Linked DNA regions of Homo sapiens: regions 1 and 2 are each linked to region 3. Evidence: fine-mapped expression QTL. A gene starts in region 3. Each other region holds a variant in brackets. All regions are shown on one strand. Distances are between the middles of the regions. Region 1 holds the start of ALX3 (ALX homeobox 3). Region 2 overlaps LINC01397 (long intergenic non-protein coding RNA 1397). Region 3 holds the start of STRIP1 (striatin interacting protein 1).

Evidence for each region. PIP is the estimated chance that this variant, and not a neighbour inherited with it, causes the effect.
Region 1: its variant is the best candidate, but not a certain one, in a credible set for the expression of STRIP1 in whole blood (INTERVAL, PIP 0.73).
Region 2: its variant is the best candidate, but not a certain one, in a credible set for the expression of STRIP1 in gastroesophageal junction (GTEx, PIP 0.70).

What each region holds. Positions count from the first base shown.
Region 1 is chr1:110,064,547-110,075,098 of GRCh38, reverse strand. It overlaps ALX3 (ALX homeobox 3), which reads left to right and starts at 4,427. Exons shown (of 4, transcript NM_006492.3): 1 at 4,427-4,763; 2 at 10,196-10,512. The coding sequence starts at 4,487. The variant G/A (reference allele first, on the strand shown) is at 5,835.
Region 2 is chr1:110,086,512-110,091,511 of GRCh38, reverse strand. The region is part of intron 1 of LINC01397 (long intergenic non-protein coding RNA 1397); the gene reads right to left. Among named protein-coding and RNA genes, the nearest start is that of LINC01397, 6.3 kb to the right of the region's middle. The variant T/G (reference allele first, on the strand shown) is at 2,958.
Region 3 is chr1:110,031,345-110,041,896 of GRCh38, reverse strand. STRIP1 (striatin interacting protein 1) reads right to left here and starts at 7,273. Exons shown (of 21, transcript NM_033088.4): 1 at 7,080-7,273; 2 at 3,937-4,006; 3 at 3,140-3,214; 4 at 2,591-2,725; 5 at 2,382-2,502; 6 at 1,194-1,262; 7 at 255-361; 8 at 36-163. The coding sequence starts at 7,259. It overlaps LOC105378895 (a long non-coding RNA gene), which reads left to right and starts at 6,458. Exons shown (of 3, transcript XR_947693.3): 1 at 6,458-6,488; 2 at 8,466-8,548; 3 at 9,460-9,601. RefSeq lists silencers at 6,679-6,748, 6,989-7,208 and an enhancer at 7,209-7,598.

The sequences.
Region 1 (10,552 bases), 33 kb before region 3:
GGCAGAGAGAATGAGCAGAAAACCATAGGTTCAGTGGTGGATTCAGGCTCAAGAAACATGTGTATAATTACTATCACATTCATTCCCATAAAGCTGGAGTACAGACTCATTTCTTCCCATTTTCACATAAGAACCTGTGGCACAGAGAGGTTAAGTGTCTTTCCCAATGAAACAGATCAAATCAATGAAAGAGAAAAAACATCCCACAAATCTTATTCCAAAGCAGACTTCAGCCTGGGTTGTTAGAATCACAGCCAAGGATTCTGGGTGTCCACAACACAAAGATTTTTTCTTTTCTTTTCCTATCATTTTGCTTCTTCTCTCTCTCTCTCTCTCTGTCTTTTTCTCTCTCTGTCTGAGATCATGAGTGAGGAGGAAGCACCAGATCCACAGGTTTATTTACCATTCCTCAGCCTGCCCTTCCAGGAAGAATGTCACTAATGAGAAACAATCTTTTGGGTTCCCAAACCCAGAATTTTTATATGAATCAATTTAGGATTTCAGTATCTAAACAGGACAAAGGTAATACCAACTGTCTTTCCTTTGAAGGAAAAAAAGCAACTGAGTTTTCCCTGTTGGAAGGAAATTTTGTGTATGTCAAGCAAATCTCAGATCTGAGGTTACCTCTTTCTCATCGTCCCTATCCCTTCTGGAAATCCACTGGGGGAAAAAGAAGCACATGTCCTTCCTGTGGTGCAGGCTGAGGGAAGCAGAGAATGAAACGGAAAGTGGTGCTGGGGCTGATGTTTCCCTAAATGAAGAACTGACCTTACAGTTGAGGCCCAGAGCCAGGAACTCTTCTCACAAGACCAGATTCTATTCTAATTCACAGCCAAATGAGGATGATTTTCTTCAACGTGGATGAGACACTTCCATTCCAGCAAAGTGTAAGCACTGTGAAGGCAGGGATCACATGTCGTGTGTGCCACTATATCCTGGTACCAGCAAATGGGGATCACATGGTAGGCTCTCCTGTTAAATGAATGAATTAAACATTCAGCTGGTGTAAAACAGCTAGTAAGTATCATTTCCATTTAAAACGTAGCTCTTCTTAGCAGATGGAGAGGGGTTTTGTTCAGTTTTTTCATTACAGGGCCTGGAATTATCTGGATCTCGCCATCCACTCATCTCTTACTCCATGGACAATTTTTCAGTGACAAATGCTGTTATAATTCAGTTGGTTATTAAACAGCACAAATGGTGAATTCACAAATTCCCTTAAAATTCTGCCCCACATCTGGCTGCATTGGTCATAAACCTCTCAAGTGTTAAGCACTCTGTTTCATTTGGTCTCAGCTTAGCAGAAACCACCCTCTACCTACTGTATCAGTGGCCGCAGCTAGGCATACGAGTCTCAACAGATGCCATTTGCTGATCATGAAGGCAGCAGTGCAATGTCCCCAGGCCACTCTGGCCTCAGCCTTCCTTTCTGGAAGGAGTCCCAGCCTTCCCACTGGGAAAATGAGGGTGCACAGTGAATGATTTCAGCTTCGTTAACTGAAGAAGGACTGAGGAGTCGTGTGGAGTGGGGGACCGCGGATCTGAGTGTAAATTCTGGTTCTGGCACTAACTGGCTGTGTCTACCTGAACAAATGGCTCCCTCCTGGCCTCAGGCTCCTTCTCTAGAAAACAGGGTACCTATTTCACAGAGCTGTGAAGATTAAATAAACCAATCTTAGACAGGCATGGTGGCACATGCCTGTAATCCCAGCTATTCGGGAGGCTGAGGCAGGAGAATCACTTGAACCTGGGAGGTGGAGGTTGCAGTGAGCTGAGATCATGGCCACTGTGCTCCACCCTGGGCAACTGAGTGAGACTCTATCTAAAAAAAATAAAATAAAATAAAAATTAATAAACCAATGTACGTAGAATACATGAGCTAGCACCCAGCACACTGTAGGTATACGTAAGTGTTAGCTGTTGTTTTTACCTATAATATGAGGGCCTTTGTGACACTCCATGATCTCCCAGCCCCCCTAAGAAGGAAAATTTATTAACTCTGAGATTGCTGTTTTTGAGGTTTCTATGCACCTGCTCCATCAAACTCTTTCCGGACCACATACAGATAGATAAAAGTTTACACAAACGGCTTAAAAGACAAGTGGAAAAGTCTCCTCCCCGTGTGCTGATTTGTGTGGTTCTGGAAGAAAACTCTCCCAGGAAGGTCAACTCCACTTACCCACAAAACTCTCATGTAATCTAGGGTTTTCTCTCTCCTCAGTTTAATTGGTAACACCATCCCAGTATGGAAATTGGCTCTGTTCAGAGAGTGGGAGAATGTCAAGAGAAATTTCTGGGCTTGAAAGTGGATGCAGGTCCCTGTGTCTCTCTGCTCAGCTCCAGCCTTAGGCCCATTCACTCTGAAGTCAGGAGCCTTTCACCTATTCAGTGATGGAACCCACTGGAGATGGTAATCACCATCATCATCAGCATCTATTAAATTAACACAGTGCATCAAAACACGAATGCTTTGCAAATACCCTACTTCCATGTGTGGCCCACCTTTCTGATGAGGAAACTGAGGCTCAGCAAGGTTGTCATGGGAGGCAGAAGACTCAGCCTTTGATCCAGGCTGCCTTGTTTAAATTGTTGGTGACATTTTCCTGGGTGATATTTTCATCCTCCATAGTAAACTTCTTGATAACTGTTGAATAGAATAGGTATCCTAAATTGATGTCCTCCTAGAAAGTCAACAATATCCAATTTCGCAGGTATGGGGAAGAGAGAAAAGAAAACAATATCCAATCAACAACTATTGAAAAACCTTATTAATGGGCAAAGGTGATCGGTTCAAATTGGTTGCCCAGAGCTGGATCCACTAGATCCTGGAGAAAGGATCCCTCTGGTGAGGCCAGAAGGGAAGCTTAATTTCAAGCCGAGCCTCCCTCTTGACTAGAAATACCAGCCCCAGGTGCTCCCATCTCTCTGGCCAGTCTGCATTCCGTGATTAGGGGCCCTAATGGCCATAATGCCTCCAAGGTGGTGTTGAAACCAATAAGTCTTCAGAGAAGTTATGGTATGTTTAATAACGGCTTAATGACTCCTTGTGAGATGCAAGGCTTCTGGTTCCTGTTTGGTCTTGATTTACAGCCCAACTCTGGCTGAGGAGCCAAGAAACCCCTTCTAAGCCCCCAGCGGAAGAGGGAGGTGTTCACACCAGGCCTCTTGGATTCCTTTAAAAATTGAGAATTCAAATGAAATACAAATGATGTTTGACTCCCCACCTCTCTTGCTAGTCTCCGGGGGCATTGATAATAAAAACAGTTTAACGCAGCCCCACGGGCTCCTCAATCCATGGGAAGTGAGCAGGGTCCTCGGGTCCTTGGGTATTTCTCCCCAGATCTTAGGTAGGGTGGTGGTTATTTCTCTTTTCTGAAATTCTAAGCTACTGCTCTAATCCTGTCTCCTTTTGGTTGGGGAGACTCAGCTCTTAGAAGATGCAGTTCTACCCTCATCCCTTCTGAATCGTCAGGCCTGGGGGAGCACAGCCCTGAGGTCCGAGCTGCAGACAGTCTCTCCAGTGGGTCCCCAGACACTTGGGTCATCTGCCCACTGAAACGCATTCACTCCAAGCTGCTGCCAGAGGAAACACCAGCCCTTCTGCTCATCCTCCACCTGTTCCAAAGGCTGCCCCTGCAGGACACTGTTCAGTCCTGAGCTGCCCATGGGAGTCTCCCTGTCTGCTCTGGCCCTGTCTCTACTTCTGAAACACACCTCAAATACATAGAAAGACCCAGGGTTGGCTTGGCCCGACCTCCACAGTCAGATGAGGACACTAATGATTGGCGCAAGGAACCATAGCTAATTAATGATAGTGTCCAGGTCCAAGCTCCCCAGCACCCCATTCCCAGCTTAGATCTGCTTCCACACAACACTCCCAATAGCTCCTTTCACTGTGAGAAACAAGAGATCTCTAAGGGAGGTGTTTTTTGCTGAGGCAACATTTTGTCCAGCTCCTAGCGGAGACCTAAGTAAAACTGCAGCCTAAGGCCTGCCTGTCTGCCCGCCCAGGCCCTCATCCCAGGCTGATGTCCAGAGTCCAGGCCCAAAAGTGTTTGGGGGGGATGCCCACACGGCCTCACCCCTCTAGGGGCAAGTGCCTCTAGGCTGGATATCAGGACCACGGGTGCTGCTCTGAGCAAGAGACTCACCTGGATGGGTAGACAAAGGGATCCTGCCCTAGAGAGGAAGCTGCTTCATCCTCTCCTGAGCTGCCTGGGACTGGGCTCTGGGTGAATGGGGGGAGGGGGTTCCCGGGCTCCGAGGGGTTAACCCGCACGGGGCCACACGTGACGTGGATGGTTCCAGCATTAAGTCAGAGGCGCGGCCCCCTCCCCTGCCCCCCGCCCCCCGCCCCCCGCGGCGCGCGCCGCTCCCGGGGGCTCCGCGCCCCCGCGCCCAGGTCCCTCCCCCTTGGCGGGCGCTCACAGGCGGCGCGGGCAGCGCGAGCCCCGGAGCCCCGGAGGCCTGTGCGCCCTGAGCCGGCATGGACCCCGAGCACTGCGCGCCTTTCCGCGTGGGGCCTGCACCCGGCCCCTATGTGGCCTCGGGGGACGAGCCTCCGGGCCCGCAGGGAACCCCCGCCGCTGCGCCTCACCTGCACCCCGCGCCGCCCCGCGGCCCGCGGCTGACCCGCTTTCCGGCCTGCGGGCCCCTGGAGCCCTACCTCCCAGAGCCGGCCAAGCCGCCCGCCAAGTACCTGCAGGACCTCGGGCCCGGCCCGGCCCTCAACGGCGGCCACTTCTACGAGGGCCCCGCGGAAGGTAACGCGCGGCGCGGGGCGTAGCGCGCAGCCCGACCCTCTCTTCTTCTTCCTTACCCGGGCCCACCCGGGCCTTCCTGCTTATCTCTCCCGCTCGCCTATTTCTCAACTTTTTGCCCCTCTCGCCTTTCGCCACGGCTTCCACGGAAGCCGGGTTGGCGCTGGCCCGGGCCAGGCAAAGGCCAGTGTGGGGCGGGAGGGTGAACCACCGTTCCTCGGCGGCGGGAATGGAAGGCGGGAGGTCGAGGGAAGGTGCAGTGGCGACGGCCCGGAGTCCAGTCGGGGCCCGAAAGCAGTTGGACCTGGGAAGGAGAGAGCATGCTCTGCCGAAGTTGGACTGGAACTGCCACCTACCCTGAAGCCCAGACCCGGCCGAGGGCTGTGGAGCCACACTGAGACCTGACGAAGAAGCGCGGCTTTTGTGTCTGGCGCCCTTTGAGGGCCCTGAGGCTGGGCCTCAACCTAGAGTGGTCAAATCGGGGTCGGCTGGGGACTGCGGCCTGGTCTTGGCCCGTCTCTCCTCCCCGGGCCTAGCCTTCACAGGAAGGGTGCTGCCTGTGCGGCAGACTGGCACAGTCTGGCCGCGACTGGTCGTGCAATGCCAGGGCTGTCCTCAAGACGGAATAACTGTATTCTTATTTCTCATACTAAGCTGGCCTCCCTGCCGTTATGCACTATGATAGCCGCCCTTCTGGCAGTCTTGGCTTCCCCGCGCTGGATCATCACCGCTGGGCAGTCAGGAGCAGCCCTGGGCAGCCTAACCCCCTGGCGCCGCGGGCTCACGGGCCGGTGCCCTGTGCTAAGGCCGGCTGGACCGCGCCGGCATCCGAGAATGCGCCTGAAGGCAGGGGCCTGGCAGGCTGATCGGCAGCTCTGCGGCCGTCCGCCGCACCCTATGACCTGTAAGGCGTCTCGGCTTCCGCACTGCACCCACCTTATCTGCGCTGCCATATCCCGCAGCCTAGGCCCAGAACTGGATCCTCCAAGATCCGCCTCAACCCCCTGCCGCCGCCCGGCTGGCGCCTCGCGGGCCTCCACGGAGTGGCCGGGCATCTCCGGCTTTCGCCCAGCC[G/A]GGGCGGTGGGAATGTGTAGGGGAGGGCGGGGAGGTGTGTGTGGGTCAACGGAGGAAATGAACGAGTCCGCGGAGCTTCGTGTCTGTGCCCTTTGAAAGAGGCTTTCCTGATAAAAACCACAGTTGGGACTTAATGAGAAGCAGTTGGCCTGGCTCCTCTGATCCCAGCCAGACGGCAGAGGCCGCGCAGTGCGGTGAGCACCGCCAGAGACAGGTACCCGGCCTGGCTCAGCGCTCCGCGTCGGGCAGGAGCCACCCCCCCAGGCCCGCGTCCCTGCTAGGCGCGCCGCATCCGGCACCGACAGCTCGGGCCCCCGGACCACACCGGTGCCGCGCGAACTGCAGAGAGCGCTGGTGCGGAACGAGCGGCCGGGAGAAACCCAGCACCCCGGGATCCGACGGCAAGGGTGGCCTTGACAACGAAATACCGAGAAAGAAAACCAAAGAAAGCGAGCGACAACCAAGAAAAGGGGAAGGGAAATTGAACAAAACAACGGAGAGCGCGGCGAGAACGAGAGGGTAAATGGCAGTCGGCGAGCTGGGATGAACTAAAATGAATAAATGAGGAACGAACGAATAAAAAAAGCAGGAGCAAGATCGAACGAAACGGATAACTAGAGAAGGGGGAAAGGACAAAGAGGGAGGGAGCAGACTAAACAAAAGAAAACGGAGCATGTTTAAAGCGTAGAATATATCAAAATGAGAACAAGGGGGTAAGAAAATTAACGATTTCAGTTGAACGGAGGACAGGCCAAACGAAAGGGAGGCAGGCGGGTGCGAGCAGAGCCTGGTAGAGATCCTGGCGGCCGCTAGCCTCTGGCGCTCTTGCCGGTGTTCAACGGGCTGCCAGCGTCCCTGCGGCAGAGCGGACCTCGGCGCAGCGCGGCGCGCGGTGGAGCCTGGCTGCTTGAGGACAGTCAGCCCCCAGGGCCGCACAGCCTACTTGGTGGGAAGTGGCGGGCGAAGAGGGAACCCGCCTTATTTCCCGGTTTTTAAAATAACCGGCTCGGAGCGTTTCCAGTCCACACGAGTGAGCGCGCAGCTGCGCCCCATCTGCGGCGCGATCTTTCACGAGGCTGGGCAGTTGCGCGCCCCAGAGCCTGGCGCACCTCGCTCTTCTCCCGCCTGCAGTCCGCCGCCCGCGCAGCCCCAGGCCGCCCTTTGCTGAGAGCGCCCAGCCTTGCTCTGAACCCAGGCTGCGTGCTGGCGCTGCCAGCCACTCTCGCGCCGTCCGCGCTTGGCTAGTCTGTCCCGAGTTTGGCTCTGACGTCGAAACACGCCCTCGGCAAGAGACTCCTACTAGAGTTTTGCCCGCTGCCGCTGAGGCCCTGAGCCGGATGACCCGGCCGATCGCCAAAGTCGAGGAGAGTCCCAAGTTCTTAGACCCGGGCTGAGGCTTCTGGGCCAACGCTGAGAACCCCCAAGAAGGGCACCGAGGCCTCACCGGGGTCCTGCCCACGGCGTTTATGTCCACTCTGGCTTTGAGTCTTCGGCGGGAGCTGCAGGAGCCTGGGCCTCAGCGAGTTCTGCAGGTCGCTTAGTGACCCCACAGTGGCCGGAGGAAACAGTGCGGCGCGGGACAAGGCTGCAGCGAAATGTGAAAGCCAAGGCTGGTCCCGCGGTCTCAATGGATGCCTTCTGTGGGGACAGTGGAGCACTCGGGCCTGCTGCGGCGCTGCTTCCTGGCTGCACAGTGGCTTAGAAGCAGCCGCTGGTAGGGGCTCTGGCACTCCTCCGGGTGAGGGGTGCTCAGGGTACGGCAGGCCTGAGAGCTGGGTCAGGGACAGAGAGCTCCTTTACTACGTTAAAAGGCTCCTGGCTTTCACGCCCAACAGCTGCTGCTGTGGCCCTGCGGTTATGCAGGCAGAAGACACCCCAGCGTTGTCTCAGGCTGTCTCCAACATGAGTACCCCGCCTTAACCACCTAGTGTCCGGATCAGGTGCAGTGACTCCTCTGCACAATCCATACACACCTCAGATGTGCCCCGTGCTCAGCAGAGCAGCCCTCACTCCTTTACAAGCTTAGGTTCAAGCTGCTGGCTGCTATTCCTGGCCTGTCTTTCCTGGCTTCTGCCTTCCATTTGTCCCAGTTCTATCCCTTTCCTCTTCTGGGCCTTGCTCCTCAGGAGGCTGCTCTGTGTTCTCTGAGGAGTGCCCCTCTCCCAAAGTGGAGGGATGCCACCCTCCCTCTGGTGTTCTCCAGGTAGATCAAGGAGGTTTCAGGGCAATGACAATGAGGAGAGCAGTTCCGTGGTCCCTTGAGAGGGCTGTAGACTGGGCAGGCATGGGAGTTGGGCATAGGTCAGCAGGCTTAGCCTCTTCTTTGGGGAAGCTGCTCTGAGAAGTCCTACTGCACTTTCATCCCTTGTCCCTGGCAGCTTGGTGGCTCAAGGTCGGGAACGCAAGTCTCAGGGCCCCAGATCTGGTCCCTTCTTCTGGGCAGGTCCTATTGAGACCCAAGAGGCAGATGAGCAAGCCCCAGGGCTTTGGAGGGCCTCTGCCAGGATGTCAGTACTCTTGAACCCCAGCCCTGACCCTCAGCCCTGAGCTACCCTCACCCCTTTTCTGCCTGGAGTCCAGCACAGCCTCCCTACAAACACAAGACACCAAGACTCTTTCTTCTCAGGCTGAACATTTCCATGGCCTGCTGTGTGTATGCATGTGGTGGGGGTGGCGGGGGCGGGGGGGGGGGATGTCCCATTCCAGTGTCCCTAGTCTTCCTATCATTTTCAATTATTTGGTTCAACTTCTGTGAGTCTTCCTTCCTAAGCTTCTATCAAATGGAACTGCCTCTAAACCTGAAATGTGCTGGCCCAAGAATGGAAGTCAGAGACTGGAACACTTTCTCCCCTGTGCTCCACCTGAGTTGTGAAGGAGCCCTGGTCCCTGGGCTGTAGCTGTGGGCTACCTGTGTACAGGCCTGTGTACAGGCTGGGCATGGTCCAAGGCTAGGTAGCCCTGCTCGACTCTCCCAGTCCTCCAGGACACACACCAGGAGCTTATCTCATGGCCTGGGTAGTCCTGGAAAGTAACTGACCACCTTCCAGCTGAGGAGGACCCTGCCCCATTTGTCCTTCACAGTGCAGACAGGGACTCACCAGACCCAGATCCTGAGAGGCCCATTTGTCCAGTCCCATCCTCCCCCAACCACAGCTGTGATCCTGACACCAAGTCCTGGGAAGACACTGCCTCTTGTGCCAGCTAGCTGGGCCTCCTCAGGGCCAGGCCTCCACTGGAGATGGGCCCAGAGCCAGGCAAGAGGCTGTGTGAGTCAGTGGGGCGTCTTTGTGGCGTCTCAGCTGCCATCCCAGTGGACTGTTGAGGAGGGATTTCATGGGGACACCGCTGGGGGTCCTTGCCAGAGGGAGAGGGTGTGGGCAATCAGAGTGACCTATTTTTCACCATGCTCTGTCGGTCGATCCACCATGGTGAGGCTCCGCCAAGCTTCTGGAGTAGGGGTTAGCATGTCAGAGTGGGGCTGCTGGAAACTGTTCCAGTCTGTAATCAAGTCCTTCCCTGCCTGTTAAACACAGGCAATGGGGGAGCAGTTAGAAACTCCTGAGGAAGGAGGGGGTGGTCAATGATGGGAATGATGGGGACAGGGGCTGTGCCCTGTTGTGACACTGGTCCCCAACTCTCCTTCTTTGAGCACAGCCTATCTCAGCTCTGCTTCTCTATTGCTGGAGCTTAAGTCCTTGCCCAGATACCACAATTTTAGGAGGAATGGAGAGAAGCAATCCCTCTGGAAGCTTCTTTGTCCCATCTTGCCCTTCTTACACCAGAGCTGGGGAATTTGATATTGACCTGAGACCTGGGGTTCAGAGAATAAAGCTCAGCCAGACCAGCCAAAGGTGGTCTGAGCACCCACGTCCACAGCCTGCCTGGCCCTGGGAACAGAGGCGTGGGCATAAGGGCCTGGGAACCAAGGCCTGCAGAGTTAGGAACAAGGAAGCACTTTCTGGCAGGAGCAGGAGATGTCAACCACCCCATCCTCACCCCGCCCTCTGCCCCCATTCTTGGCCTTGCCAGGGTGGTGGTCCTGCTGTGGCGCCAGTCCTCTCACGTCCCTGTGGAACGCACCACCACAGAGCACTTCCCCGAAATGAACCCCACTCTGGCCCCAGCAGATCCGCCCAGACCACAGAGCACATAGTTCCCCAGGGCCCCCTCCCCAGCTGGAGGCTCAGCAGGCAGGCCTCTAAATGCCAGGCTCCCATGGAGGGTGGCTGCCAGGAGGAAGGGAAGGGAAAGGAAGGGGGAGGCGGAGACTGAGGCGTCAATGTTCTTCCCCCTCCCTCCATTCCAACCCACAAAAGCCCCTGGTTCAGTTGCCATCCTCCCTTTTGTGTTCTCCATTGCAGCTGAGGAGAAGACCTCCAAAGCTGCCAGCTTCCCCCAGCTGCCCTTGGACTGCCGAGGGGGCCCCAGAGACGGGCCCTCTAACTTGCAAGGCTCCCCAGGCCCCTGCCTGGCCAGCCTGCATCTTCCTCTTTCCCCGGGACTCCCTGACTCCATGGAGTTGGCCAAGAACAAGAGCAAGAAGCGTCGTAACCGCACGACCTTCAGCACATTCCAGCTGGAGGAGCTGGAGAAGGTCTTCCAGAAAACCCACTATCCTGATGTGTATGCCCGGGAGCAGCTGGCCCTGCGCACAGACCTGACTGAGGCCCGGGTACAGGTGAGGGCACTGCAAGGATGGGGCTCTCTGGCTGCCCCTA
Region 2 (5,000 bases), 52 kb before region 3:
TTCCTGTTTAAGAAAGCAAACCTGAGACTAAAAGGCTTCCACAGGCATCTCTAGCTACAATATAACATTACTATGTTTCATGTATTTTTATAGCTACTCTGTTAATAATGACTGTTAATAACTACTGGTGTTCCATTTATAGTAAGGATGTAAATTTTCCTTTAAAAAGATGTGTGTGTGTGTGTGTGTCTGTGCATGAGTTAAAGAAAAATGTTAATGATACAAGTGACACTCAGATGTGGCAAAAATCATGAAAATTACTCAAGTCACTAAAGTCTGAAAAACACAGCTCTAAAAGATGCTAAAACAAAAATATGAGCTCTGCCTGAAATCCCAGCACTGGAAGGCCGAGGCAGGCAGACTGCTTGAGCCCAGGAGTTCGAGACCAGCCTGGGAAACAAAGTGAGAACCCCGTCTCTACAAAAAATACAAAACATAGCCAGGCATGGTGGCACGTTCCTGTAGTCCCAGCCACTCAGGAGGCTGAGGTGGGAGGATTGTTTGAGCCTGGGAGATGGAGGCTGCAGTAAGCCAAGATTGTGCCACTGCACTCCAGCCTGGGCAACAGAGTGAGACCTTGTCTCAAATATATGTGTGTGTGTGTGTGTGTGTATATGTGTGTATATATATGTATACACACATATATATACACATATATATATGAGCTCTGAGCCTCATATTCATATACAAATCTCATAATCACTCAAGCCACCCTAAGACCAAGGATGGAACATCCCCCTTCCCTTCACAGCTCCCTGCAGGCTGCAGGTGGATAACTTGCCCTCTTCCAGGCCACTTTGGGATTTGCCGTGCAGGGATTTCACCAAAGGGAAAAGTTCTCTGATAATTCTTACCATCTCAAGGCCACAAAATTGATGTTGTTAGCAATGGTATCCCTCTAAATGCTGCAAATCCATGAAATGACTTCTGAATCAGCAAAGATTACTGATTACTCTTTTAAAGAATAGCTGCAACTGATCACATTCTGACGGGAGTAGAAGTTCTGGACAGCAGTGTTCCCAGATGGTGCACTCTGCAAAAATGAGTGGGTTTTGGCACGTTTCAGTGCCTGGCCTAGGGCCGACCCTGAGGGGTCTCTGAGTCTTAGGTGGTCCACACACAGAATTGCCTGCCAGAGTCAGATGAGTGCACCCGTGTGGGGTCCACAGACACAAGCAGAGACAAAAGCTCCGGAGGAATGAGGTCAGGAGATAATCAGATGCGACTCCTGCGGCCTCTCCAGGACCCTGTGGAAGCCCCCACAGCCCTTCTCAGGAGACCTTTTGGCCCAGCAATGTTATACCAAAAGTAGGAAGTGTGGGTTCTGGGTTCTCAGCACCTCCAGCTGCAGCTGGGCTGAGGAAGGCACAGCTGTCCTGCCTAAGGCTGTGTCTCTTGTGAAGGAGAAACATCCGGTCAATTCCATCAAGAATGTCAGTCAAAATCCCAGGGAGGGATCAGTCAGCTCAGCCCTCCTATCCAGCCAGCTTTTGTGCCCTGGGAGCAGGCCCCTGGACTGTCCTCAGCCAAGACAGGAGAGGCCCATCTCCCAAGGGCTATGGCCTTGCTGCCCCTCATCCCACACTCCTCTCCCACCTAAAGCTTCGGGCTGGTAGCCTGCAAGTGAGCAGGGGTTGATGCAGTGGTGCACAGGCCCCCGCAGGATATGACCCAGGATGTGAGGACCCGCAGGCTGGAGGAGAGATATGCAGAGGTGAAAGGGCAAACCTGTTTCCAGTCTCCTTATCAGGAGTAGCCGAGTGAAAGGGAAGTGGCAGCCCCGGAGGTCAGGCTGGGGGGTTGTGGCTGGGGCAAGGCTAGGCTAGGTCTCCTGAGAGGAGACCCCGCTGGGCAGGGAAGAAAGAGAAAGGGGGTGTGGAGGAAGGGCCAGGGAGGGAAAGGGCTGGGAGCACTGACTGTATGGCCCATTCCCAAGGGGAGGAGCAGCAGGGTGACCAGCCACCCAGGCTTGCCCCAGACTGAGAAGCCTCCCAGGACACAGAAGTTCCCATTAAATACTGGGATGGTTGGTCACCCAGGAAGCAGCCCTGGCTAGGGGACTGTCAGAACCCAGCCACCTGCACCCCCTCCAGAGTCCCAGGCTCAACCACCACCTTGTCTCAATGCCTTCTTACTTCTCCCCCTTAGTTATTCATTCAGCAAACATTAACAAAATGCCTACTGTGTGTCAGGCCTGCTGCCAGGCTCTGGGAATTCAGCAGTGAAACGACAGGCATGCTCTCTGCTATCCCAGAGCTTGGAGATTATGCTTCCTTCAAAGCCACAAGGGACACTTACTCCCCTGCTGCCTGCCCCACCAGCCCATCCCCCGGGGCATGTTTCTAGGGAGCCCTCCCTCAACAGTCTTAGGTGGTCCACACACAGAACTGCCTGCCAGAGTCAGATGAGAGCACCCGTGTGGGGTCCACAGACACACGTGGGGATGGTGTCTAAATCACTGTCCCACCTGCCATGGTGCCTTGCATAGGGCCCTGTGCAGGGAGGTGCTTAATACATGTCTTTTGGTTGAGGAGCTAAGGTGTTGAGGGCCAGCTGGAGATGGGGGTCCCTCGGTCACCTGTCAATGCTCGCAGCCTCCCGCCACCACTGCCAGCACCCACCCATATGCGCAGGGCACGCCTCATTGTCAAGCAGCATTCTCCCTGCCCCAGCACAGTGGGGCTGACCTGTCCTCTCCTCAGCTGGGGAAAGTAGGCAGGCCTGTGGGCAGACCCCAGTCTAGCGTGGGGGTGGGGGTCCCCAGGATGGAGGAGTGGGACAGGAGCTGGTTTGTCTTCCCTGAGCAGAGAGGCCTTGGCCTTGGGCTCCAGCATCCTGTTCCCTCAGAGGTCCCACATGAAGAGAAGCCACAAGAGTCAATATGCCTCATGTGTGCCTGGGGGCTTCTTGCGGAGGCAGAGCCAAGCCTAGGCTCCTTCGGCCTCGGTCCTTGCCAG[T/G]GGAGAAGCCAGTGGGGACCCTGGGCAGAAGCTAAGTAGGTGAAACACACAGAGACGTGCTGTGGGGGCAAGGAAGTGGAGCAGTGCTGGAAGAGACTTGGGGTTCCAGCTACAACTCCAACAGACTCCTCTCCCCAGTTAAGGAGTAGGGGATTGTATCATTGAAGCCACTGAGGGACCATAAGCTTCTTGCAGGTGGGGGCCACAGGGCAGTGCTTACAGTAAGCTCTCCACCCTTTATGTGGAAAATAAGCCTGGCCCTCAGACAGCAGAGCCCCATGTTTCTGTCCTGCACCCTGGTGGCGTTTTATCATATTGCAACTCATGGGATATTACAGAAGAGGGAGTATGAGCTCAGCCCAGTGGACGCCCGTCTTTGGGGTCTGGCTTTGAGATATCATTAGGATGGGATTCCTGAGTGTTCTGGGAATAGCTGGAACCCAGCCACTCCCAACCAGCTGGGGCGTGGGAGAAAAGAGCAGGACTCGGGAAGACCATGCCAGAGAAAAGGGTAGCATGCGATCCGGTACACTCTCTATCCACAGGCCACAGACACACAGGAAAGGCACAGAAGACACCCTGGGACAGGGTAGGGGGACGTGGTGGAGGGCGGGAGGGGTAAATGGAAACTCAGGTGTCCAGAATTGGATTATGGCTTAATCATAGTCTTTGGTTACTGACAGGCTCTCAATCTTTCGTTAAGTATTCACTTAGGTAGTTTTCATAGTGCACAGGCGCCTGTGAACCAGGCATTATTCACTTAGCTTTCATAGTGCACAGGTGCCTGTGAACCAGGCATTATTCACTTAGTTTTCATAATGCACAGGTGCCCGTGAACCAGTGATTATTCACTTAGGTAGTTTTCATAGTGCACAGGCGCCCGTGAAGCAGGGATTATTCACTTAGTTTTCATAATGCACAGGCCCCTGTGAACCAGAGATTATTCATTTAGTTTTCATAGTGCACAGGTGCCTGTGAACCAGGGATTATTCACTTAGTTTTCATAATGCACAGGTGCCTGTGAACCAGGGATTATTCACTTAGTTTTCATACTGCACAGGTGCCTGTGAACCAGAGATTATTCACTTAGTTTTCATACTGCACAGGTGCCTGTGAACCAGAGATTATTCACTTAGTTTTCATACTGCACAGGTGCCTGTGAACCAGGGCTTTTCCTTCTTTCACTCTCTCTCTGCCACAAAACCACCCTTTTCGTCCAAAGGAAACTCCTCATGGAAACCCAGTACATGAAAAATGAAAAAGTGAAACTGGTCTGGCTGAAGTGGAGGTGGGGCCTGCCCACTGTCTACTTGGCCTCCCCGTCCACTGCCCCAGCAGCCCTGACTAGCCCCTGGCAGATTTGTGGAATGCGATCTACACCATCAGGAGCCAGGAAGGCAGGAATCTGTTTCCTCCATTCCTATGCCCAGTGACCAACACGTGCCCAGTTTGGTTACTCATTTCAACAAATGTTGGGTGAAATGTACTGAAGGAGATGAACTTGTTCCAACCACCACTCAGGTCAGGTTTGGGGAGGGGGCACTAGAAAGTGTCTCTGCCTCAGGATATCCTCCCCATCAGCCTACCACAGTGTCTAACATTCCCCATCACCATGCAGCCTAACCCTGCATGTCCTTCAGGACCCAGAGCAAACACTACTTCCTCCACACAGCTTTCTCAGATGTCTCCAGCCAGAGTCATCTCATTGCCCTTGAACGCTGTAGCCACTTGTTTATCTCTCTCTCTCCTGCATCCTTCACACTCACTCAGGCTTCTGCCTAAGTTCCTGACATACATGTCTCATTTCCCCAGTGGTGTAGACACTGCACAGCTCCAGGGTGGGAGATGTTTAACTGACTTTGGCATCCATCTCAGTGCCTTCCCATAGTAACGTTCCATAAATGTTTGAGGAAGAAAGAAAGGTCTTCTGGTGCTCCTTAGGACGCCGCTGTGTCTCCAGGAGAGCAGCTGGAACCAATTTGACCTACTATGACATTAGCATGAAGTTTATATACTGCAAACTGTCACCATGCAGAAAGAATA
Region 3 (10,552 bases):
ATAGCACCGTTCTCCTCCTCCAAGGAGGTGCTCACCAATACTGTCTTCCAGAGCAGCAAGAGAACTTTCTTCATGGGAAAGTGAGGGGCGTGACCACTGCAAAATTTGGTCACCATCCCAAACAGCATGATGGCAAATGGCTCATTGTTGTACAGCGGGGAGCCTGGAGGTGACACAAAGGTATCAGGACCCTCCCAAAGCCTTCCGCCTCAGCTTCCAGGCAGGGCCTCTAGAGAGGATCCCCAGGGTCCTACCCAGCTCGGCTCTGAAGGTCTGCCGCATGGTCCTCCACTCAGCCTTGTCACCCTCACACTCCTGATGAACGGTCTCCACTATCAGGTACATGATGTTGAGCAGGACCCTGAGGACAAGAGCCAGCTCACAATGGAGTGGGATGGGGGGGTCAAAGGAGCACCCTAGTGTCTAACAAAGTGCTTACACAAAGCAGGGGCTTACTATTAATAAATGGTATCTGAATAAATGAGTATGAACAAGAATGGCCAAAAGCATTTACCACCCTAAGCTTCCTGAAAAGAAAAAAACCACAGAGGTGGTAGCGAGCTGTAGGGTCAAAGCAGAACAGGGTCACAGTGAGAACAAAAACAGGGTTTATGATGAGGAAATGGAAAGCAGGAGCTGAGAGGTGACGCCCAGGGATCCTAACACCCGGGAGGCAACACTACAACCACCTAGTCTAAAAACTTCCAAATTCATAAAAAGAGCCAGATTTCAACCCTCAAAAACTGAGGGGTGATCTTGGTGGTCAGCAGTTGCTGTGAGCTCCTGGGCAGCCATGAAACATTAGGAAGCTGTCAGGTCTAACCCAATGAAGATGAGCATCAAGCTGTGTACACAAGAAGGTGGGAGTCCAGGGAACACCATCAAGTGTTTCATCCAAATACAAAATACCCCACGACCAGGTCCTGAGTAACAGTGTGAGTAGGAGGCCACACTTAGCTGTGGCTCTAGTAAGTCACTTGACCCTGGATTGCCTTTGGGAGTCTCAACCCAGAGTCCCACCTAGGACGAGCCCTCAGCAGTTCCTACTAATCATTCACACTGAGCCCATCACACATGCAGATGATGTGTACAGAAGCACACACAGCAATGACACCCACAGACAGCCTCCCACACCCTGCTCTGATCTCATCTCTGACTAACGCTCAGGAGCCCAGGCTTGCTGCTCGCCTCACCTGAGGTCTGTGCTGTCAGCCAGGGAGATGGCAGGCTTCCTCACAGCACTGCTGCAGGCGGCACTGTTGCTGCAGGAGATTTTGAGAGTCAGCATCTTCCTCCAAGAAGGAAGATAAGTGATGTCCCTGACAAGTACTGACCAATGGGGAAACAAAATGCTGTGATACGTGCTTGGACTGCACAAGAGGCCACAGGACACGGTGGTTAAGAAACCAGACCATGGCTGGGCATGGTGGCTCATGCCTGTAATCCCAGTACTTCGGGAGGCCGAGGCGGGTGGATCACCTGAGGTCAAGAGTTTGAGACCAGCCTGGCCAACATGGCGAAACCCCATCTCTACTAAAAATACAAAAATTAGCTGGGTGTGGTGGCAGGCACCTGTAAACCCAGCTACTCAGAAGGCTGAGGCAGGAGAATAGCTTGAAGCCGGGAGGTGGAGGTTGCAATGAGCCAAGTTCACGCCATATCACTCCAGCCTGGGCAACAGAACAAGACTCTCTCTCAAAAACAAAAACAAAAACAAAAAAAACACAAAAACAAAAACAAAAAACCCAGCCATGCACTGGACTGCCACGGTTTGAATCCTGGCTCTAACTGCGCCTTAGTTTCCTCATCTGTAAAATGGGGATGACAGTAGTACCTATATCCTTAACATGAATTAGCACATGTAATATTCTGAGAACAATGCCCGGGACACACAGGCACTCAATGAGCTGTCTTAGCTTTATCATTGATGGTGTTATCCTTAGATGAGCAGCAGCTGACCTGTCCACTGGACAAAGGTGACACAGGCAAGGCCAGGCACTGGTTGAGCCCATATGTCAGTCTTGTGCCTGGCCTCCTGCCAAGGCGGAAACTGCAGGGCGAACACAGCAGTGTCTGCAGGTTCAAAAGAGAGCTCAAAGTGAAGAGTCTCCTTCTGAGGAGCACCCCAGGCCTGGGCAGGGCCTGCACTGTCTGGTGTAAAAACTCTGGCATCAGGGAGCTGCAGGGACCTGTCATTAGTCTCCATTAATCTTCAAGGTGTAAGTGACCAACTCCGTTATTCAACCCAGGTGGTCAGAACACAGCCTGGGACCAGAACTTCTGCCCCATTTAACCCTCTCAAAGCCAGTTAGTTCTGCAAGCTCTGTCCCCCTTCCCATCCCAGCCTCCCCTTCCCTACTCAGCCTCTCAAAAATGCTCACTCTATTTCCATGTTCAGAAGCTCCACCAAAGCATTGAACGTGCCCACCTCCAGGAGGAGAAAGATGTTGTAGCGCATCCAGGACTGCACCTCTGCCTCCGAGCTGCACTCCCCAAACGTGCCTGCAATGCAGGGTTCAACTCACTGAGCCCCTCCCTGCATCTGAGTGGGCAGAGGTGCCAGGGAACCCTGGGGAGGTCCACTCAATACCTTGAGCAACATAGAGAATTGCTCGAGCCACCTTGAGTCTCTTCTCCCTGGCAGTGACTTCCAAGCCATCCAGGAGCCTCATGGCATGGGTCCGGTGCTGGTTGGTATCCAGCTCAGTCCACTTCTTGTCTGTCACTGCAGGGCAAGAAACCAGTTACACCTGAGCCTAGAAAAATCCTCACAATGGCATGGACCCATGTTAACTCACCAAATTCAGGACTGCCATAGGACCAGAAAGATAAGTTACACCCTATGTAAGTGGTAAGATCATACTGCTGCTCTATGAATTTGATTCCAAACTGAAACGCTGGTATTTTGGGTGCAATTTTAATCACATGATTTTTTTTTCTCCCCTAATATGCACATTCTGAAAAGCCCCCACCGATGTGCCACAAGCCCACTCTACATGTATCTGGCTTTGAACCATCAGGGTTCAGCAGGCTTCTCAGGCTGTTCCAGGATGACTCAGGTCATTCAGATGCCTAAAAGAAACCTGCAGCTCTCGTTATGCAGGGCAAAGGAAGCAAGAAGTGTGGGAAATCATCTCACCATGGATCCGGAAGTCCTCCTCAAAGCATTTTCGATTCATCAGGAATTCTGGCCCTTCCGTGTAGCTGTAAAGCTCTGTCAGAACAAAGTCTCGTCACCATTGGTTCCATGTCTGCATTGCACACCAGGTCTCACAAGTGCAGAGAAGGCAAGGCATTTGCTTCCACTCTCAACTCTGCCCCTGAGTCATAGTGACTCCTGGAATAAGCTCTCTAATTATGAAGGGGATCTTAGTGCTCTGATGTGCACAATAGAGACAACCAGAGTGCCAGAATGCCATCTGGACACTTCCAGTCCGATGTGCATCCATCCCACCATGCCATGCCAGGGCTGACGGCCACCTGGGATGCATCTCTCAAATGGCTGCTACCTCTTGAGCAGGATGTGTATTGTAGAGGCTGGAGAAGCAGCTCACACCGACCTCGCATTACATGAGAGTGGCAGTGGCAGCAGCAGATGGGCACAGATGCAGGCATCCCTCATGACCCATTGCTGGAGGAGAGACCACTGTCAGGGTCACAGTGGATAGCCAAGGAACATCACTGTCTCACAATGGGACTGGGCTCTAGCCAGCTTCATAAAAGTAAAGGACAACACAAAGTTATAAGATACACAAGGCTTGAATCAAATAACATGTTTTATACATATATATATATATATATATATATATATATATATATATATATTTGATAGAACTAGGGAAAGCAATGAAGCCCTAAATGATATTCATTATTAATTTTATTAAAGACCAATAAGGAAAAAACCACCCCCAAATAACACAAAGGTCTGTGCGTTACCCGAGAGCTCTGCAGCCCACTTGTCTGTGTCAGCATACTCAAACTCCAGGTCTGGTGACTCCGAATAGCCCTGCTGACAAGAGGAGAGAGCTTTAGGAAAAAGGATCATTCTATTTATCAAAGAAACTCATGCTTCGAGATGCTGTTGTGTTACAGGACACCACTGCCTCCACTTTTTTATGTTTTTTCACATTTTGTTTCCTAAAACCTCTCAGAGTATCCTATACTTTTCCTTCAGAGCATTTATCATAACTTATCATTATAGGATGTGTTTACTGTCTGCCTTTCCACAAGACTGTAAGTTCCCTGAGAACAAGAACATCATCCATTTAACTTACCAATGATTTCACAAGGTCCAGCATGGTACCTGGCATGAATAAGTGAATGAATGAATGGTCTATACACACATATTTGTTAAATGAATAAATACAAGGTTTCTATGTATTTTGTGCAGTAAATGACCATTCCATATGATGCTATGATTCCAGAAGTCTTAACTTCTTTCTGGCTAGTGGACTGTCAACAGCTCAGGACAAAAATGAGTATTGAAACCCTCAGCTTTCCCACCTTTGTCTCAAATTTCAGTGAGAACTGACAAAGAAGGCAGCCGCCAAACAGATCAACTTCCCTCCCACACATAAGAGAAAATGTGACAAAGACAATCTTTTTCCTGCTGGAAATAGGTGATTACTGAGAACACACCATCTTGGAAGCCTTGTACTGGGAAGAGAGAAGTGAGAAACAAATAGGTAAAGTCCTTAGGTTTAATTACAGTCTACCTGGGAAGACAAAGACCAGCCACAAAATGACACAACATACCCACAATGGCCAGGCGAGGTGGCTCATGCCTATAATCCCAGCACTTTGGGAGGCCGAGGTGGGCGGGTCATTTGAGGTCAGGACTTTGAAACCAGCCTGGCCAACATGGTAAAACCCCGTCTCTAATAAAAATATAAAATTTTTTAAAAATATATTTTTACATGGTGGGGCGTGCCTGTAGTCCCAGCTACTCGGGAGGCTAAGGCAGGAGAATCGCTTGAGCCCCGGAAGTGGAGGTTGCAGTGAGCCAAGATCGCGCCACTACACTCCAGCTTGGGAGACAGACAGAGACTCTGTCTCAAAACAAAACAAAACAAAACAAAAAACATACCCACAAACAAGAACTCCACGTTGTGTTCAGAGATAACACAGTGTACACTTTCACAAGTTACTGAGCTTCGGTTTCTTCATTCATTGAATGGCAATGATGAAAATCTACTTTGAAGATTTTTAAGGACTAATCAAAATTATGTAGTACATAGTGGGCTCTCATCAAATGTGAGCCTCCCTGTCCTCCAGGCATTCACTGATCAGGCTCCCAAACTACCGATTTCAGCTATGACTAAAGAAAGATCATGGCATCAGACTCTCTATAAAGAAATGGATTTAGACAGGTCTCTGCTTAAATGTGTCCATTTGACTGGTCTTTCATGTAATGAGTCTATGAGGAAATTTTTTTTTTTGAGACGGGGAGAGTTTCGCTCTTGTCACCCAGGCTGGAGTGCAATGGTGCAATCTCGGCTCACTGCAAATCTCCACCTCCCAGGTTCAAGCAATTCTCCTGTCTCAGGCTCCTGAGTAGCTGGGATTACAGGCACCAGCCACCACGCCCGGCTAATTTTTGTATTTTTAGTAGAGACAGGGTTTGATCACATTGGCCAGGCTGGACAGGAACTCCTGACCTCAGGTGATCCGCCCGCCTCGGCCTCCCCAAGTGCTGGGATTACAGGCGTGAGCCACTGCACCCGGCCTCTATGTGGAAATTAAAGGGTACAAAGAGAAATTACAATTCGTCAGAGGGTATCTATTTGACCATTCGTAGCTACTCTGGAAAATTTTAAACCATTTTTCAAAATGATAACTCCTCTCATGATGAAGGTAGGTTCACCCCCCTGCACTTTCGTAATCTTCCACTTGAAAAACTGAGTAGTTAACACTGATGTCCGTCATCCCACCATGCCAGGGCTCCTAAATGGTCAGTGTTTTTGTTTTTTTCAAATAATTCACTCCAAGCTCAAATTACGTCTACTTCGGGCTTGCCAATTGTTGACATGTTTTCTCAGGGGTTTAGCCTTGCTAACAAAAAATAAAAGCTTCTGAGGAACTGATTCCACAGGTCTAAAGGTAGTATCATTGCTCTTTGGTATGAATTGGTACATTATGCTTGGACAACTAGGAATTCCCTCTCATTAACTTGGCTGATCAGTTTGGCTGCTGATCAATCTAGGAGATGGCATAGTAAGTGCTCTGGGAACCTGCTCATTAAGAAGCCCTAAAACTCCGCGACATGAGTATCTTCATTCATGAATTCTGCAAAAGGAGGCAGTGGGAGGAATTCCTTAACTTGGGGTGAGGTTACTAGTCAGTTCCAGACTATGCCATCTCCAGAACGGCAGGAACGGCTCACTAGCGAGACAGGAAGGAATGTTGGGTCCTAACGCATGCTTAAAATGTCTATTTCTCATCTTTAACAGTTCAGTATCAGGCGCACTGGGCACAATAGCCCACCACAGGTACTGTTAACCCATGGCCTGATCTGGCTCAGGTCAGAAGAACAGGACATGTTTCCCCCTCCTACTCTACTCTCAATGATAATTAGCTCGGTCCGGCTCTAAGTTCCTTCCAGATCCTCGCCGGCGCCTTCCCTGCCCACACGCGCCTTCCTCTGCGAGCGGCAGGACCCAGGAGCTGGAGCCCGCGTGCCAGGGACAGACGCCCGAGATGATTAGGTTGGGGGCGCGGCAGCCCAGCGCCCTGGAGTGCACCAAGACCCCCGACTCCTCACCCCCGAGCTGGGGCGAGAGCGGCTTCCCCAGGGGCTAGGGCCTCGAGGCCACGCCCACAGTCGGGGCCCAGGGGAGCAAACCAGCAGTCGCCGGCCACGGGAAGCTCTCCCGGGCGGCGGAGCTAGAGCAAGGACTCATGCTCCAGACCCCAGGAGCTGCCAGCCTCGCTTCCTGCTCCTTTCGCTGTATAGTGACAGTTCTCGGCCGGACTCTACCGAGCCCTCCGGGAAGCCCAACCTGGCCCCTAGAGTGGCCCCGGGCCCGGGACCCCCGGCGCCGCCCGACCCGGTGCGAGCCTCGCCCCCCGAAGCTCCTGACCTCTGAGTCTTTGCGCTGGTTGCGGTTGAACTCGCGGGCTTTGCCCCCAGGCAGGAGGCCCGCGGCGGCCCGCGGTGCCCCGGGTGGTGGCTGTGCGGCTGCCGGCGGCGGAGGTGGCGGGGGCTGGGGCTGTTTGTTGTTCACGATCAGTGGGCCCGGACCGCCGACTGCCGGCTCCATCTTGGCTGCTCCACACCCCCAGCTTAACTCGCGCACAGCCGCCGTGATGCAACTCTCGCGTGATTTTCTCCAGGAAATTTCCCTGGCCGCCATATTAAGTGTGGCGGCCAGTGTTAGAAGCCATCTTGGCTGACCAATACCTCGCGATATTCTGTCTGCAGTCCTTCCCTTGTTGATCTTTTTAGTTTTCCACCTTCCTTTCAGTTTCAGTTTAGATGTAATTTTATCTGTGAGGCTTCCCTTAGCTTCTTCAGTCAGTTTAGTTACCCCTCCTTCCTCTAAATCGCTTTGCACTTATAACTCATAGCCTTGTTCAAGGCTTAGGCGGAATTTTGTAATGAACAAAATGGATAGGATCCTAGTCTTCACAGAGTTACCGTTGTGACAAGTGCTTGTCATTCATTCATTCAACAAACATTTAATAAATGTCTCCTGTGCACCAAGCAGTGGGATAAAATGAGGAACAAGTGTCTGCAGTCACGGTACATAACAGTGCTTGGTGGGTCAGACAAACAATAGACAAATATAGAGAAATAAATGCTGAAAAGTGTTAAAGGAAAATTTGTTCATGGCACTAATTAAAGATGGTAAGGCAGACTTTATGTAAGAGAGCCCATGGTGATAGTTACAGGGACCACTACAACCAGATCTTGCAGTGAAGAAGAGGAATTAGACTCAACTCTGACTCCAACAAGATATAGTGGGGATTTATAACCAAAGAGCAGGATGAGGGTCAGTGGACGGAAAACTACTAAGAGAAACATCAAGGATAAGAAGTTTCTTGCTAAACTGACCTAACAGGATTATTGCTGAAAGCAGGACAGGGTGCTAAGATGTTGAGGGTGGTCAGATACCGAGTGCTATGGTTTGACTGTGTCCCCCAAATTCCATACGTTGGAAACTCAATCCTAAAGTTCATATGTTGATGGTATTTGGAGGTGGAGCCTTGAGGGGGTGATTAGGATTAGATAAAATCGTCAGGGTAGGGCCCCTGTGATGGGACTGGTGGCTTTATAAGAAGAGGAAGAGTGATCTGAGCTGGCACACATGCTCTTGCTTTCTCACCGTGAGAGGCTCTCTACCATGCAGTTTAAGAAAGCCCTCACCAAATGCAACCCCTCGACTTTGGGCTCCCCAGACTCCAGAACTGCAAAAAATAACTTTCTTTCCTTTATGAATTACCCAGTGTTTTGTATTCTGTTATAGCAACAAAAAATGGATTAAGACGCCAAGAGTGGAGAGTCCCTGCACAAACTGGATTCAACAAGGACAGAAAGGAAGCCCAAACGGTTAGTCCTAGTAGGCAGAGGACTCACAGGAGCCTGACTAGAGTTTTGGCCAAAGAAGAGAATCTTTGTCAGAAGTAACAAAAATTGAGAGGTTAAAAGGTGGCAGTGGGGCGGGGGGCAGGGGTTGGTGGAGGCGGAGAATGTGGCTATAATATAAGCATGCTGCCCAAGGAAGGCAGGCCTGAGGGTGTGATTTTAGATGAGTTCTGAAAGAAGTGAGGAGAAGCCCTGCAAAGTTCCAGGAAGGGCACACAGACAGATGAAACAGCTAAATGCAAAAGCCCTGATGTTAGTGTCTGGAATTGAGTGAGCCAAGGGAGGGATAGTAATTGATAGAGCCATATAATGATAATGCAGGGACCAGAAGAATGCAGGGCCTTGAAGGTAGTGGGAAGGAGTTTGAATTTTATTCTAAGTGAAATGGAAAACCATTCGAGGGTGTTAACCAGGGAGATGTTATGGTGTGATGTTTACAAGTTCAATCTGGCTGCTTTTGGAGAAGGGATTGGAGAGTTGCAAGAGTGGATAAGGCAAGACATGTTAGGGGACCATGTAGATGGAGATGATGGTGCTTGTACCAGAGTGGAGCATTGGGTTGATATTTCTATATTGTGTAGGTAGGGGGACAGGATTTGCTGGAATCTTATCAGCTGGGTAGGGGAAATAAACAATGACCCCCTTGATCTAGGTTTGGGCAACTGAGTGGATGGCTGTATCACTTTCATAAATAAGTAAGCTCGAGAGTAAGAAAAACAGGTTTAGAGGAAAGATCAAGACTTCAGTTTTGGACACATCAAGTTTGAGATACTCATCAGACATCTTAGAAGTGTTGCGTAATAATAACTCTTACTATTATCTGTTGTTATACTGTGAAATCCTTAAAGGCATTTTATCCATCTTTGTCTCTCCAGCTTTACATATTGCCTGCTTTACACCCCAGGCTCAAGTCCAGAAAGTCCCTGTGATACAACTCTCCAGTGATTTCCCCTGAGGTCCAACCTAGTAGGTGCTTAAAAAGTCTTTGTTGTAAATTAATAAATTAATCCAAAACCACCACACTGCTATTTCCTCCTACCTATCTTCCTGTGCCTATCATAAGCTGTATCACCCGGGGAAAAACATTTTTCAGCTAAATTTAGAACAGGGAGGGTTTTGGTTCCATAATTCCACTTCTAGTAATAGATTCTAAGGAAATAATCAGATTTAGATAAAGATAGGTGTATGATAATATTCAGGCAATGGTGTTTTCAATAGTGTAAAGTTGGGATCAACCTAATTTGAAAAATAGCCAATAAGAAAATGGCTAACTTTGAGGGGCCAGGCACCGTGGCTCATGCCTGTAATCTCAGCACTTTGGGAAGTTGAGGTGGGAGGATCGTTTGAGCCCAGGAATTTGAGACCAGCCTGGGCAACAGAGCGAGACCCTATCTCTAAAAAAAAAAAAAAAAATCAAATTAAAAAAATTTTTGAAAAAGAAAAATGGCTAACTAATGGAATGGGGCATGCATAAGACAGAATATACAGATCTAGAAGGAAAAAGAATCCCAAATGTGAAGGAGCAGAAGCACAGCTGGAGAGCTCACTACTCTAACTTGCTAGGAAACTTTGCGAAAAGCACAATCCAGTAGAGAGTAGAAGCTGTAGAAGTGTCTTCATGCACTTCTCTTTTTTTTTTCCTTCCCCATCTGTAAAATGAGAATAATCCCACCTGTATTTTTGTCAGAGATGTGTGAACCACAGCAACTCCATCTTGAACAGGGGCTGGGTAAAATGAGGCTGAGACCTACTGGGCTGCATTCCCAGGATATTAGAGCATTCTTAGTCACAGGATGAGATACGAGGTCAGCACAAGATACAGGTCATAAAGAACCTGCTGACAAAACAGTTTGCAGTAAAGAAGCCAGCCCAAACCCACCAAAATCAATATGGTGATGAGAGTGACCTCTTGTCCTCCTCACTTTTACACTCCCACCAGCACCATGACAGTTTACAAATGCCATGGCA